Linked DNA regions of Homo sapiens: region 2 is linked to region 1. The links come from fine-mapping of genetic effects on gene expression. Tissue or cell type: T cells. Region 1 holds a variant in brackets; the other region holds the start of a gene. All regions are shown on one strand. Distances are from middle to middle.

What was found. PIP is the estimated chance that this variant, and not a neighbour inherited with it, causes the effect.
Region 2: WWC1 starts here. The variant in region 1 is fine-mapped to the expression of WWC1 in T cells (TOPMed, PIP above 0.99). The same link has a PIP of 0.9 or more in blood mononuclear cells.

Annotation. Positions count from the first base shown.
Region 1 is chr5:168,373,082-168,381,186 of GRCh38, reverse strand. All of the region lies in intron 2 of WWC1 (WW and C2 domain containing 1), which reads right to left. Among named protein-coding and RNA genes, the nearest start is that of WWC1, 85 kb to the right of the region's middle. The variant TG/G (reference allele first, on the strand shown) is at 4,495.
Region 2 is chr5:168,287,184-168,295,288 of GRCh38, reverse strand. It overlaps WWC1 (WW and C2 domain containing 1), which reads right to left and starts at 3,644. Exons shown (of 23, transcript NM_015238.3): 1 at 3,018-3,644. The coding sequence starts at 3,136. RefSeq lists silencers at 2,832-3,251, 3,352-3,871 and an enhancer at 5,016-5,095.

The DNA.
Region 1 (8,105 bases):
ATGGTCTCTTTTGTAAACCAATAAGAATAGATGGGTGCACGAACAGACAAAAACAACACACAAACTCACACCAGAACTGGTTCTCAAACTGGTTGCACACTGGAATCACCCGAGAGATTTCCACTGAATTGATCTACAGTGTGAAGTGGGCATCAATTTGTTACATTTCTGAGAGTATTTCCTTTACCCCAATGATCCCCTGGACGCTCCCAGGCAATTTCCTCTACTCACCCCCTCTCCCAGTTTGCCTGTTTTAGAACTTCACATGCATGGACTCACACAGTTATTTGCTCTTAGGGCCTTGGTTCTTTCACTAAGCAGAAGGTTTTTGAGACTCATTCCTATTGCTGTATCTGTTGTACATTTCTTATTATTGCTGAATAATATTCTATTGTATGAATACATCACATTGTCTTTGTGATAAATTGTTAGTTTGCTTCCAGTTAGGGATTATTATGATGAATACTCTAAGTCTTCGTGTGGGCATGTTTTCACTTCTCTTGGACAAAAATACCAGGGGTAGAATTGCTGGATTATACTTCGCAAGTATATGTCGAATTTCATAAGAAACTGGCAAACTTTTCCAAACTGGTTGTACCATTTTACATTCTCACCAGCAGTGTATCAGAATTCTAGTTCTTCCACATCCTTGCTAGCAGTTGGTATTGTTATTTTTTTCCTCATTTTAGTCATTATAGTGGGTATGTAATGATACCTCGTTGGAATTTTATTTTTTTATTTTTTTGAGATGGGGGTCTCACTATGCTGTCCAGGCTGGTCTTCAACTCCTGGGCTAAAGTGATCCTCCAGCCTCAGGCTCCCAAGTAGCTGGGACTACTTGGCATGTACCACCATGCCCCAGCTGATTCTGTATTTTTATTTTTGTAGAGATGAGGTCTCACTGTGTTGCCCTGTGCTGCCTTATGTTTTGCTATGGCTGGTCGTGAACTCCCGGGCTCAAGTGACCCTCCACCTCAGCACCCTGAAGTGCTGGGATTACAGGCATGAGCGACTGTGCCAGCTGCTTCTTACTGTTAAGTTGTAGGACGTCTTTACATACTTGGAATATGGTTCTTTGTTAGAGATATGTATTGCAATATTGTCTCCTTATCTGTGGCTTGTCTTTTCAGTTTCTTAATAATGTCTTTTGAGGAACAAAGATTTTAATTTGATGAAACCAAATTTATTAATTTTTCTTTTCTGGTTAGTGCTTTTTATGACTTGTCCAAAAAAATCTTTGCCTATCATAAAATCTTGCAGATTTTCTCCTATGTTTTCTTCTAGATGTTTTATAATTTTAGCTTTTATGTTTAGGTCTATGATCTATTTTGAGTTTAGTTTTACACATGGTGTGAGGCAAAGGTAGAAGTGGTGGCCTATTTTTTTTCCATATGGATACCAGTTGTACCAACAACTGTTGAAAAGATTATCCTTCAAGGGCATTGGGCCTTTTAAAAGTTCTTTACATGGTTCTAAAGAGCTGTGTTGGCTGGATGCAGTGGCTCATGCCTGTAATACCAGCACTTTGGGAGGCCGAGGCAGGTGGATCACTTGAGGTCAGGAGTTCAAGACCAGCCTGACCAACATGGCGAAACCCCATCTCTATTAAAAATACAAAAATTAGCTGGGTGTGGTGGTGTATGCCTGTAATCCCAGCTACTCAGGAGACTGAGGCAGGAGAATCGCTTGAACCCAGGAGGCAGAGGTTGCAGTGAGCCAAGATCGCGCCATTGCACTCCAGCCTGGGTGACAAGAGTGAAACTCCGTCTCAAAAAAATAAAAAAAAGAGTTGTGTTAATGCCGTTAGTTCTGAACTGTCACACCCTGAGGGGGTCCTCCGACAGCCCAGCCCCTTCTGCTGACACTACCCTTCCTCAAGTCCATCTTACCAAAATAGGTAACTTTGTAACTGGCAGGCCCTTTGAGATCATCTTGGCCACTACTACATTTTAGTTCTTGTTTTAATTAAAAGTATACATAGATATAGCTTAATAATTCAGTGCACTATAAAATTTCCTACATAAAACATCTCCCTCATATCCCTCTTTCCAAAAGCAGCTACTTTCCAAACTTGTATCTGCTCTAGTGCAGGCATCATTGAGAACCACTTCTCCACTTTCTTCTGCTCCATGCTCTAAACCTCTCCCTACAAACACACGCCATACACATTCTCCACACAGCACACATGGCAGCACACTCATGAGTTCTCCATACACCCATCCCTTCCTACACTTGCCACACACCTGTTTTCTCCACACTGCATACACACCCACGCCGCTAACAATACTGCATTTTCCAAGGGCCTTAGCAACAACAAAAGCAATTCTCTTAAAAACATCTGGAGAATATTCAACCTTGTTACTATGCAAAGGAGTGCAAATTCAAAACAATGAAGTAAGAGTTTAAACCTATGATATATGTATCAAAAGTCAAAAGAAACGAACATAGCCCCATACTGATGAAGGTCTGAGGAAAACAGTACCCTCATGTCTTGTGGCAATACAAGCTGATATAATCTTTTGGAAATATTCACCAATCTAGCAATATATACTAAAAGCTCCCAAGGTATTTATAACTTTGACTTCAAAATCCTATACTTGGAAATGAATTTTCAGGAAATTATCACAAAGAAAGTAACATACACAAAGAGTCTTCCCTGAGTGCTATTTAAAATAATAAATGAAAATAAACCAAAAGGTTGGCAATAGGAAGCATTATGGTACTTCCATTATGTGTTTTATTTTTCCCTTTTTAAAAAATTTAACTTTTAAATTTTAGATTCAGGGGGTACCTGTGCATGTTTGTTACATGGATGTATTGCATGATGCTGAGGTTTGGGGTATACTGTGCATAGTACCTAATAGGTAGTTTTTCAACCTTTGCCCCCATCTCCCTACCCTCTCTAGTAGCCCCTAGTGCCTATTGCTGCCATCTTTTATGTCGATAAGTACCCATTGTTTAGCTCCCACTCTCAAAAAAATAAAGTGAGAACAAGTGGTATTTGAGTGTTTGTCCTTGTATTAATTTGCTTAGAATAATGGCCTCCAACTGCATCCATGTTGCAGCAAAGGACATGATTTTTTCTTTTTAATGACTGTATAGTATTCCATGGTGTATATGTACCACATCTGCTTTATTCAATCCACTGCTGATGGGCACTAAGGTTGATGCCATGTCTTTGATATTAGGAATAGTACTGTGATGAACATATGAGTGCATGTGTCTTTTTGGTAGAGTGATATCTTTCCTTTTGGATATATACCTAGTAATAGGACTGCTGGGTTGAATGGTAGTTCTAAGTTCTTTGAAAAATCTCCAAACTGCTTTCCACAGTGGCTGAACTAATTTACATTCCCACTGACAGCATATAAGTGTTCTCTTTTCTCCACATCCTCACCAGCATCTGTTGTTTTTTGACTCTTTAATAACAGCCATTCTGACTGGTGTGAGATGGTATCTCGCTGTGGTTTTGATTTGCATTTCTCTGATGATCACGGATGTGGAGCATTTTTTCATATGTTTGTTAGCCTCTTTTATGTCTTCTTTTGAGAAGTGTCTGTTTATTGTTTTGCTCACTTTCTAATGGGGTTATTTGTTTTTTGCTTGTTGAATTTTTTAAGTTCCTTATAGATTCTGGATATTAGACCTTTACTGGATGCATAGTTTACAAATATTTTCTCCCACTCCATAGGTTTTCTGTTTACTCTGTTGATAGCTTCTTTTGCTGTGCAGAAGCTCTTTAGTTTAATTAGGTCCCATTTGTCAATTTTAGTTTTTGTTGCAATTGCTTTTGAGGACTTACTCATAAATTCTTTCTCAAGGCCAATGTACAGAATGGTGTTTTCTAGGTTCTCTTCTAGGCCTCTTATAGTTTGAGGTCTTACATTTAAATCTTTAATCCATTTTGAGTTAACTTTTGTATATGGTAAAAGGTAGGGGTCCAGTTTTATTCTTTTGCATATGGCTCGCCAGCTATCCCAACACCATTTATTGAACAGGAAGTCCTTTCCCCACTGCATATTTTTGTCGACTTAGTTGAAGATCAAATAGCTGTAGGTGTGCGGCTTTATTCTAAATTCTCTATTCTGTTCCATTGATCTACGTGCCTGCTTTTGTACTAGTATCATGCTGTTTTGGATACTGCAGCCTTATAGTATAGTTTGAAGTTGGATAATATGATGCCTCTGGCTTTGTTCTTTTTGCTTAGATTTGCTTTGGCCGTTTGGACTCTTTTCTGGCTCGAAATGAATTTAGAATAGTTTTTTCTAATTCTGTGAAAAATGATGCTGGTAGTTTGATATGAATAGCACTCAATCTGCAGATTGCTTTATGCAGTATGGCCATTTAAACAATATTGATTCTTCCAATCCATGAGCACGGAACGTTTTTCCATTTGTTTGTGTCACCTGTGATTTCTTTCAGCAGTGTTTAGTAGTTCTCCTTGTATATATCTTTCACCTCCTTGGCTAGATGTATTCCTAGGTATTTTTTTTT[TG/G]TGTGTGGCTACTGTAAATGGGATTGCGTTCTTGATTTGGTTCTCAGTTTGAACATTATTGGTTTACAGAAATGCTATTGATTTTTTTACATTTATTTTGTATCCTGAAACTTTGCTGAAATCATTTATCAGTTCTAGAAGTCTTTTGGCAGAATCTTTAGGGTTGTCTAGGTATAGAATCAAATCATCAGCGAAGAGAGATACTTTGACTTCTTCTTTTCCTATTTGGGTATCTTCTATTTCTTTCTCTTGCCTTGATTGCTCTGGCTAGGACTTCCTCCATTATGTGTTAAAATGTATTGACACATCCTTTTGATGTATTAAAAATGACAAATATGGGCCAGGCACAGCAGCTCACGCCTGTAATCCCAGCACTTTGGGAGGCCCAGGCAGGAGGATCACCTGCGGTCAGGAGTTTGAAACCAGCCTGGCCAACATGGTGAAACCCCATCTCTACTAAAAATACAAAAATTAGCTAGGCATGATGGCACATGCCTGTAATTCCAGCTATTCAGGAGGCTGAGGCAGGAGAATTGTTTGAACTCGGGAGGCGGAGGTTGCAGTGAGCCAAGATCACATCACTGCACTACAGCCTGGGGACAGAGCAAGACTCTGTCTAGAAGAAAAAAAAAAAAGACAAATATGAAGATTATATAGCATCCCTTAGATATCTATGATATAGTATGAAAAGAAAACAGACATAAAATTTGATCACTGATTAAAACCATCTAATCATGGTATGTGTAGATAATCGGGGATACTGAATACTGACATGAAATAGTAAAAATGGCTTATGTTTTAGAAACAGTTGTCTGTAGGCTGGGCATGGTGGCTCACGTCTGTATTCCCAGCACTTTGGGAGGCCAAGGTGGGCAGATCACCTGAGGTTAGGAGTTTGAGACCAGCCTGGCCAACAAGGTGAAACCCTGTCTCCACTAAAATTACAAAAATGAGCTGGGCGTGGTGGCGGGCACCTGCAATCCCAGCTACTTGGGAGGCTGAGGCAGGAGAATTGCTTGAACCCGGAAGGTGGAGGTTGCAGTGAGACAAGATCTGCCACTGTACTCCAGCCTGGGCGACAGAGCGAGACTTCGTCTAAAAAAAAAGAAGAAAAGAAAAGAAAAAAACAAAAAAAAAGAAAGAGTTGTCTGCATTGCTGCTTCCAATTCCTCCCCTGTTTTCTTTTAGACTCACTCTAGTCAGGCTTTTGCTCCCAGTCCTCGTCCAAAGCTGCCCTCCAAAGTCAGGTCACCCAGGTTGCTAAATCTATTGGTTTATCCTTGGTCCTCTTTGTATTTGCCCTGTCAGAAGCCTTCGACACTGTCGGCAATTCTCTGCTTGATATGTTTCCTTCACGTGGCTTCCAACACACTCGGTTTCCCTCCCTCCTTTCTGATCACTCTTTCTCAGAATCATTGCTGCTTTTCCTCTTCTTGCCACCCTCTGTTGTCTGGAGACCCATGACTTATTCCTTGGTCCTCTTCTCTGTTTCATTCCCAACCAACTTAGTGTCTTTACATACTAGCTATATGCCAGCAACTCTCAAATACTTATCTTCAGCCCAGACCTCTCTCCTAAACTCCAGGTTTATATATCAAACTGTCAAGCCACATGTCCTCTCAGATAGGTAATAGACATGTAAGTCTTGACATGTCCAAATGAACTCCTGCTCTTCCTTCCTAAGTCTACTCCCCCTGCAGTTTTCTCCACTTGGTTGATAGCAACTCCATCCTTCTAGTTGCTCAGCTCCAGAAGTTATTCTTTCCTTTTTCTTTCATACTTTACATGCAATCTATCGGGAAATCCTGCTGTCTCTACCTAGAGAATACCTCCAGCATCTGGCCAATCTTCACCCTGACCATTGCTACAGCCCAGGTCTAGGGCGCCTGGACTGTGGCATTTGTCGCTCACAAGTCTCCTTGCCTCCACCCTTGCCCTAATAAGGTGTATTCTCAGCATGGCAGTCAGACTGGTCCTTTTAAGACATAAGTCAGATCATGTTACTCATCTGTTTAAAACTCTCCAATGGCTCACTCCCATCTCACACAGCGGAAGAGCTAGGCCTCTGGGGCAGACCACTGCCTGACCTCTACTCTGCTGCACTCTGTCCTGATGTCCTTCTCCCCTCTCCTCACTCATTATGTTATATGCACACTTGCCTCTTTGCTATCCCTTGACCGCTAAATGTGATCACACCTTGGAGTTCTTCTTCTATCTATGCTTTCTATTTGAAATGCTCTCTCACCTCCTTCAAGTCTTAGCTCAAATCTCATTGTCTCAACAAGATCTTCTTCCCGGAAGACCACATCATATTTAATGGTACTCTTGGTCACCATTACCACGGCCCTTTCTTCGCCACCCCCAAATACACCTCAGCTCCCGACTTTGCTCCTTTTTTCTGTGTACTGAACATTCTCTAACATACTACATAATCTACTTATTTATTTTTTGTCTCTCCTGCCAAAATGAAATTTCTATAAGAGCAAGGATCTTTGCCATTTTGTACTCCCATGTATCGCAAGCTCCCAGAAGAGTTGGCCAATAAACATTTGCTAAATGAATGAATGCTCGATGGTGAATGTATGAGCGAATTGTTGTTTGATTATATTGTGCTATACCTCTCTCTCTTTTTTTTTTTTTTTTTTTGGTACAGAATCTCGCTCTGTTGCCCAGGCTGGAGTGCAGTGGCGGGATCTCGGCTCACTGCAAGCTCCGCTTCCAGGGTTCATGCCATTCTCCTGCCTCAGCCTCCTGAGCAGCTGGGATTACAGATGCCCGCCACCACGCCCAGCTAATTTTTTGTATTTTTAATAGAGATGGGGTTTCACTCTGTTAGCCAGAATGGTCTCGACCTCCTGACCTCGTGATCCGCCCACCTCGGCCTCCCAAAGTGCTGGGATTACAGGCGTGAGCCACTGCGCCCAGCACACCCCCACCTTTTTTTTTTTTTTTTTTTTTTTTTTTTTTTTTTTAAGAGACAAGGCCTTGCTATGTTGCCCAGACTAGCCTTGAACTCCTGGGTTCAAATGATCTTCCTGCCTCAGCCTCCCAAGTACCTGGGACTATAGACACATGCAAACATGCCCGATATTGTGTCTATAACTCTTAAGAGAATTTCAGTCCATGAACAATGCACACACAGAACTGGTCCAAGTGCATGGCTCTGAATGCCTGGGCCTTGGTGCTCATATTCCTACTATATTGCTATCAATGGCTCCATCTACTGAGGTGGTCCCCCACATCCAACCAGACCACCTCAAACCAAGAGGAAACCAGTAGCCTGACAGCTTGTGAAACTACCAGATAGAATTCTTCCTGCTATGGCCCCATTTAATCACCCCCATACACCCCATTTCTGCCTTCATTCCCTCAAGAATAAACTCTGCCACGGCCTGCTACTACTTTCTTCCATTTTTCCAACAGCTCCCAGAAGCACCTTGAAATCCCACTCCCACCATGAGATTTTAATGAGGGGGATGCACTCAGCAATTAGAAACAGGAAAAGACTGATTAGGTCTCCTGCACATCAGTGTTTAACCCAGCATCCCATGCAGCCCTCCAAGCATTAACCTCATTCCCCATACACACTCAATTAGGCATATTTACTTCT
Region 2 (8,105 bases), 86 kb after region 1:
GAGAGGTAAGAGCGGCAGAAGGGTTTGAAATAATATTTAAGAGCTGGCAGGCCCTTGAAGACCATCTAACCAACCCACTTCTCAAGCACTCAAACCTCAGAGAGGTCAAGTGATTTGCCCAAGGCCACACAGACAGAACTAAAAGGCAAAAATGGGGTATGCCGGAGGGAAATTCCAGAAAACCACAAGTGGCTATCCTCCAATTAGCACTTTTCCAAAACATACAAAGCTGGACCACAATAGTGACCCCCAGAGTTGACATGAGACCCCCTCAGGACCCCAAGTTCAGGGGCCCAATACCACCCCAGTCCAGGTGGGATGACAAGGAGGTACAGAGATGAAGTTTATAAACCAGTGACCCAAGGCCAAGCGTGGTGGCTCACGCCTGTAATCCTAGCACTTTGGGAGGCTGAGGTGGGCGGATTGCCTGAGCTCAGGAGTTCAAGACTAGCCTGGGCAACACAGTGAAACCCCATCTCTACTAAAATACAAAAAATTGGCTGGATGTGGTGGCGTGCACCTGTAGTCCCAGCTACTCGGGAGGTTGAGGCAGGAGAATCGCTTGAACCCAGGAGGCAGACTTGCAGTGAGCCAAGATCGCACCACTGGACTCCAGCCTGGGCGACAGAGCGAGACTCTGTCTCCAAAAAACAAAAACAAATAAACAAAAAAACCAAAAGCAAACAAAAAAACCAATGACACAAGATGAAGAAGGTGAGCTGCTCACCTAAGTGCCACTATGTTTCTGCCGCCTCTCCATGGCTTGCCAATCTGCTTAAAAACAAAGGCTGGGCAGGTGAGGTGCTGTGGCCTTAGGCTGGCCACAGTACCTAGCTAAAATATACTAACCCTGGTTTTTTGTTTTTTTTGTTTGCCTATCTTTTTTGTTTCCCCTGTATGACAATAGATATAACTAGTTTCCCATTTGTGAAAATGGTACACATATTTTTAAAGTGAGTTGATCTAAAGTCAAGGAGTAAGTAAGCAATAGCACAGGTGGATATAGCAAAAAAAAATCATGGAGGTGGTCCATGTAACACTAAAATTTGGGAGATTGTGCTCCAGCCAATCAGTTCTTCATAGAAGCTACTTACTTACCCTTTTCCAAGGGTAAAGAATTACTGTTGAGAGGGGCCTCCTATTGCTGTATTAGAAGTCCCCAGATGCATGATTATCAGTGTTGGCAGGGGCGGTCCTTTCCCTCCAACAGGACGTCCACCTGCTAACAGCACACAGGCCTCCGTAAACTACAGGGACCTAAATTGGGGCAGGTCACATATGTTTGAACTTGTGTCTGTTCTGAGAAAAGGACAAGAGAAAAGGTGCTGCCAAGTTCACCAACACAGTAGCAGAGCTGGCAACTGACCCGAGTAAGGGTGGGGAAGCAGTGTGTCAGGGTGACAAGTTTGCAGGTTAGAACTTCAGAGCTGGTGAAGAACTGGTACGCAGAATGGCAGAAAAATCAAAATACTTGAGCAAATCACACCTCTGGGCTTCAAATTTTCTCTTATGTTTCAAATGGGAGTTGGGCGCTGATGTACGTCCCTTCCAAGTTTTAAGCATCCCAATATTCCCTTCCAAGCAAACTTTTTAAATTCAGGGAAATGGTGGGCTCCCCCATCTGACAAACAGGGAAACTGAGGCTCAGAGGTTGAAGCAGCTTGCCTAAGAGATGCTCTCTAGCACTAAATATTTACCTTCCAGATTACATTCATGAGACATTCAGCATGGTGCTGAGTGTAGAGGAGGCATCCAGGAAGCGCTGAATGAACGAATGAATGAATGAATGAAAGTAAGTGCTCCCAGAAACTACCGAGAATCTCAACTCTCATTTTCTTTCCGCTTATATTCTTTTTTTGACCCACATCTTGCTACATACACTTCTGGGACACCTCCACCCCCACCACACAAGATGAAGAGTCCAAGAAATTCACCTTGGTTGCTTTACAGGGACCTGACCCCCAAGGTCACAGACAAGGTTTAAAGTCCGCATTCCCCAAGACACTCTGCCCACAGACCGTGTCAACAACATCGTGGTCCGGGGACTCTAGGACATACATGGAGAGGGTGAATGTATGTGTGTGTGTGCAGCATGTGAGCAAAGAAATGCCAAACAACCAGGAGAAAGTCTGGAGAGGTAAGAGCCACACCGAGCTATCTCAGGCTCCATCTGCCTCTGCACATTATCTCAACCTACAGCGGCCTGGTACCCACCAAGGTCAGGTCCCGCTGGTGCAGGGCTGAGGAGCCTCGCCGCCCCCTTCCCCGATCAGGGAAGAAAGAGAGGAGAAAGAGGCGAGGGGCAAGGCTTTCCGGGAGGCCTCTCACCTCCATCTCCATCCTAACAGCTTCCAAGTTGCTGCCAGATTCCTGGATAACCAGTCTCCCTCATCTGCCCTCCCCCGCTTCTTCACTTCCTCCCCACCCTCGGGTTCCAGGGCCCCCTGGCTGCCCCTGTGCTGTTCTCAGCAGCTTCCAAGGCACCTGTCAAAAAGCACACCTCAGGTTGCCTTCCTCTGCGCCGAGTGCCCTCTCTCCAGTGGTCTCCCACGGAATCCTGGGGTCTTGACCACCCCCTCTAACCGGACACTTCCCCATCCCCATCCGCCCACCCCCCACGCTGGGTGGAAGCCTCCCCGGGAAGACCCGGCTTCACCCGGCTAGGTCGCTCCCCCAACCCCCGCCCCCGCCCGACCTCTCTTCCTAAAGGGGGCGGGCGGGGCTAGAGCTTAAGGTCAAAACTCCGGGCAGGTGCCGGCTGGGGCCTAAGTCCTCCAACTGGGGATGGCGGTGGGGCAGCCTGGGCCAGCTCCCCGGCAGGCGCCTCCTCTCGGTGGCCCACTGAGGCGGGAGCAGCGCTCCAGAAGGTTGGGGGGAGCAGGGGGTGGCGAACTGAAGAGAGCTCAAGAGGCACGCAGAGCTCCCCTGCCCCCTCCCAGTCCCGGCCGGCGGCTCCAGGGGCAGGTGGGGGCCCAGGCGGGGGTGTGGGGGCACGGAGGAGGGTTCCAGGGTCCTACCTGTCCCGCGGGTCGATCCAGCTGGTGGTGCGGTTCGTGTGGTCTATGTAGTAGACCTTGCCGTCGAAGTCGCGCGCCTCCTCCCAGCCCTCCGGCAGGGGCAGCTCCGGCCGGGGCATCTTCCCAAGCGCTGCCGGCGCTCCCCCATGCAGCTCCCGGCCGCAGCGGGGGCTCAGCGGCTCCAGCCGGCCGCTCTTAGCCCGGGCGGCCGCCGAGGCACCATGATCCGGGGGGTGGCGCCCGCAGATGGGGGGCCCTAGTAGGGGCCGGCCGGGGTGGCGCCGCTGTCCATGCGGCCCTGCAGCCCCGACCCGGCGCCGCCCGCTCCTCCCGCCGCCGGCCTCTCACGCTGCCATGTGCGTCCGCAGCGGCGCGGTGCGAGCCCGGGTGCGCGCCCAGCCGGCCGGGCAGAGCGAGCCGAGCGCCGCCGCCGCCGCCGTCTGCCCTCCTCCGCCGCGCGGCGCGCTGCGCCCTCCACGCCGCCGCTGCCGCTGCCGCCTCCCTCCTCCCTGCAGCCGGGTGCCGTCCCTCCTCTCCGCTCCACCGCTCTGAGCTCGCCGGGTTTGTGACTTCTGCCTCCGCCAGGTGCGGCTCGGGCGGTGCAGGTAACCGCGCTGCCCCGGAAACGGGAGGCGGAGCGCCGGGCGCCTGGGTTCCCGGGTCCCCTCCCCGCGCGCAGCGCCTCGAGGGCGGGTCCTAGGGCCCGAGACGCGCCCCCTCGTGGGACAGTCCCAGCCGCCGGCCACCCTTACGCTGCCCCTGCCAGGGGAAGGAGAGACCGCCCCTCACCTGCGTCCCAGACCTAGGGGGCTGGGCCAAAAACCGCTCTGCCTGTACTTAAAACGCTCCTGTCTCTCTCCACCCGGAGTAGCCAGGCTCTCGGCACAGGTGGCCCCAAATCTTAAAAACTCCCTGCTTTTCTGTGGTGTAGAATCAGGAGTCAGGCAAGAAGTGGTTAAATGGAAACATTCTTGCGAATTGGGAAACATAAGTTTTCCAGGATCTCTGGTCCCTTCCCCCAACACAGGCACCATCTGTCTCCTTCTATTCAACTCTCCCTACGACGTTTCGCCCACCCTCCACCCTTCCCCACCATTTGGAAATGTAGCTGGCTCCCCTCAGGGTCCCTAAAATTAGGAGCGCTGTGGATCCGCTTTCCTGGGAGGACTTCCAGAGGGTGTCAGGGAAAACACTTTGTAAAAGTAATAGTAATGCCATTGTTATTGTTAGCTAAATTGAGGACTTACTTGTGACAGGCTGTGGCTAGCAGCTTCACAGGCTTTCTTTCCTGTGATACTTTGAGGTAGGTGTGTTATGGATTTGGGAGAAGTGGGGCTATGAAAAAGAAGAAAGTAAGCAAAGCAAAATTCCATCTTGAAAAATGTTCAAGAGAATAAAACAATCAGAGACACAATGTTTCTTGAGAAATTAAAAATGTAGAATTAGTGGGTGCGGTGGCTCACGCCTGTAATCCCAGCACTTTGGGAGGGTGAGGCAGACAGATTACCTGAGGTCAGGATTTCAGACCAGCCTGGCCAACATAGTGAACCCCATCTCTACTAAAAAATAATAATAATAAATTAGCTGGGCGTGGTGGTGCACGCCCGTAGTCCCAGCTACTCGGGAGGCTGAGGCATGAGAATCACTTCAACCTGGGAGGTGGAGGTTGCAGTGAGCCAAGATCGCACCACTGCACTCCAGCCTGGGCAACAAAGCGAGACTCTGTCTCAAATAAATAAATAAATAAATTTAAAATGTAGCATTAAATACAAAAAGCAAGCTAGCATGATTGAGTGAATGATCAACTGGCTGTTCACTTCCCCATCTCCTCTTACATCTGTGTACTGAGTGGGAATTTAACCCTTTTTTGCCCTCGGCATATGGCAGGAAGCTGGACTGGTCGAATGAAGCCCAGTTGGGTGTCTTCTCTTGCCTGAGCCCCACGGTCTTCCAGAAGAACCAGCACCCTGTGCTGTATGGACCAGGGTGTTGCTGAGCCAGAGAGGGAATCATGTTTGTGGTCTCATCTCCTCTTGACAGAAAAGACCCACCAGAGTGAGCCTCGCCTCCAAATGCCTTCTTCATAGTTAATTCCTTCCCTGAGGCCAGGCCTCGGGGCTCAGTGCTTGGCCCTCCTTCATTCCATAAATACCAGGCACCAGAGTCCAGGGACACCAGCCTCAGACTGGCCCTCAACACCCAAAAGTTGGAATTCCCCATTCCTTTATGGGGGAATTCCCACAGCCCTCTACACTTCCTCTGTTTGGGTCAAGCCTTTACTACATAAAAACCCACTATTGATTAGAGCAGTAGCCCCAAAGCAAAGCCAACCTGGTGCTAGGTTCTTTGAATACATGATCTCAATCTTCATAACAACCCTCTGGCATAGGAAAGTCTATTTATTATACCCATTTTACAGATGAGGCTCCAAGATGCTTTGTTGTTGGCCTGGGATACAGAGCTCATAAGACAGACTAGGTCTGACTCTAGTGCAGTGTTCTCAGTTATTAACCTATACTTTCTTTTTTTCTTTTTTTGAGATGGAGTCTCCCCCCATCCCCCAGGCTGGAGTGCAGTGGCATGATCTCGGCTCACTACAACCTCTGCCTCCCAGATTCAAGCAATTCTCCTGCCTCAGCTTCCAGAGTAGCTGGGATTACAGGCCTGCGCCACCACGCCCAGCTAATTTTTGTATTTTTCAGTAGAGCTGGAGTTTCACCATATTGGCCAGGCTGGTCTCGAACTCCTGACCTCAGGTGATCCGCCCACCTCAGCCTCCCAAAGTGCTGGGCTTACAGACATGAGCCACCTTGCCTGGCTGACTTTCTTTCTTTCTTTCTTTTTATTTTTGAGACGGAGTCTCGCTCTGTCACCCAGATTGGAGACTTTCTTTCTTTTTTAAATCACTCTGCAGCCTCAGAACTTCCCCATGGTTGGGATGTGGAACATGACTGATACTGACAAATGTTCATCTCTGTTGATGTTTGCTTCATAGTTTTTTGGTTGAGAAGCAAGAGCTCTAGAATCAGGCTGTTTGGGTCCCAAGCCCACCCGGTTTTCTAGCTGTGTGACCTTGGGCAGCTTGCTTCACTGAAGTCTCAGTCTTTGATTTGAAAAAAAATCACATAACAATATGGACTCCTTTGGGCTTGTGGTTAGGGCAAAGCAGGAGGAGAAATGTGAGGGCTTGGCACTCAGCAGCACGCCTTCATCTCAGGGGCTGTGGTGCGGTGCATTCGGAGCACCGTGCCTGGCAGCAGACACACCTCTATGAAATGTGGACCATTTGAAGTATTTTCTGTTCAAAACACAAATCCACGTCCTTTCCCCTTCTGAAAATTATGCCTGCTTGCTTGCAACAGTCCTCCTAATTGCTGATTTTTTTTTTTTTGGCCTTATTTTTCAACCAAGCCTTTTTACTGGTTGGCATTGATTGTGAAGAGAAAACACCTTTTAGACTGCCAAGTCCCACTTTCGTTTTAGTCCAGCCACCCAAACCCTGGCATTTTCCAAATGGCTTGCTTCTTTGGACCTTTTGACCTGGCCTGGGAAGCAAGAAAGAGAGACCAGAGCAGGAATTGACTCCTGAATTAAGGCCTAGGTCTGTTCGCTCTTTTTACCTCCCATCCACCCCCAACGAAAGAATCCCAGGTTATCTCGCAGAAGCGGCAAGCAGGGTGAGGTAATAAAACAGATGACTGCCTGCCCCATGTGATGGCGCGTGAATCATCCCGGACATTCTGCGAGGCTGAGGGCAAACGTGAAAGAGATTAAAGGTAAAACCGGCTCAGCCACATGATAGGCTGAATTGGACGTTACTCTACAGGTGACTGAACTGCAGGAATCCGAACTGAAGACAAGAAGCCCAGCCCTCTCCTGGCCACCCTCCTGGGGCTGCGTCTGGCTGCCCGCGTGTGGAGTTGAAGGAGACAGGCTTGGGCAGTGTTGGGCAGTGCAGAAGTGACCACAGGCCAAGCCTTTCTAATGACAAAGGCCACATCCCGGTGGCCCAGAGGAATCACCTGAGCCTGAGACAGGCTGTCTTGTTTTTAAAAACGATGCGCACTTGAACCCTTTTCTCCACTGCAACTGCAGGGAAGAAAGGCCGTTATCCACACGTGTTTTAGAGTGTTTCAGAGAGCCAGAGTCACATATTCCATGAAGATGGTAAAGAGGAGAAATTAAATATAAAACAAAGGAACAGATATGTTAGCAAGTCCAGTTTCCTGTTCGCATCTGCATTCTTCAGGGGAAACTGAGGCTTTGAGAACCTCTGCTGAGATTTTGCTTCCTGCTCCATGACTCTACCTCCCTACCTCATGCCGTCCCTCCCACACATCCTGGGGAATGCACAGTTATGTTCTATGATGGAGCCAATAATGTCCCCTTTCTTGAGTCATGCATTATTTGAGGTTCATAAATGTACTGTGGACTCTTTTTTTCCAATGATGGGAAAACACGTCCTAAGCCAGAGAAAATGAGGGTGGAAGAAACCTTGGTAACACGAGAGCCGAGGCAGAAGAGATGGTTTTTTATTTACCTCTCGGTCCTCCGTGCTTAATTCAGTGCTGGGAAATCAACTGAAACAAGTCTTGCACAGCCTACTCATTTTACAAACAGAGAAATGGAGTTTGTGTGAATAATGATTTACTGCCCTAGTTCCTGCTGGTTCCATTTCATAGATGAGCAAACTGAGATTCAGAGAGGCAAAGTGACTTTTCTGTAGTCATGTAGATATCAACTTAGCTGCTTCTAGTGAGTTTTTGCTTCTGGACTCCCAGTGTGGGCTTTAGAGTGCCTGTGAAGGAGAGATTTCAGGGCCATGGTCTGGTTGGGAAAGGAGGTGGGGTGGCCAGGAGACTCTCCTTAAACTCCTACTTATGTTTGGGTTGTGCGTCTATTTGGAGTGGATGGAGGAGGCCATGGAGGTTGATGAGGGCATGCTAAAACTGGTCACAGCTGAGCTGACAATGAGAGGGCAGAGTTGAGGTGGGGTTCTCAATTCTAAGAGGAGGAGATAGTGCCCTGATCCCCCATTGCCTGCCCAGTGCTGTCCACAAGACCCCCCAAGGGGATTGGTGTAGGGGA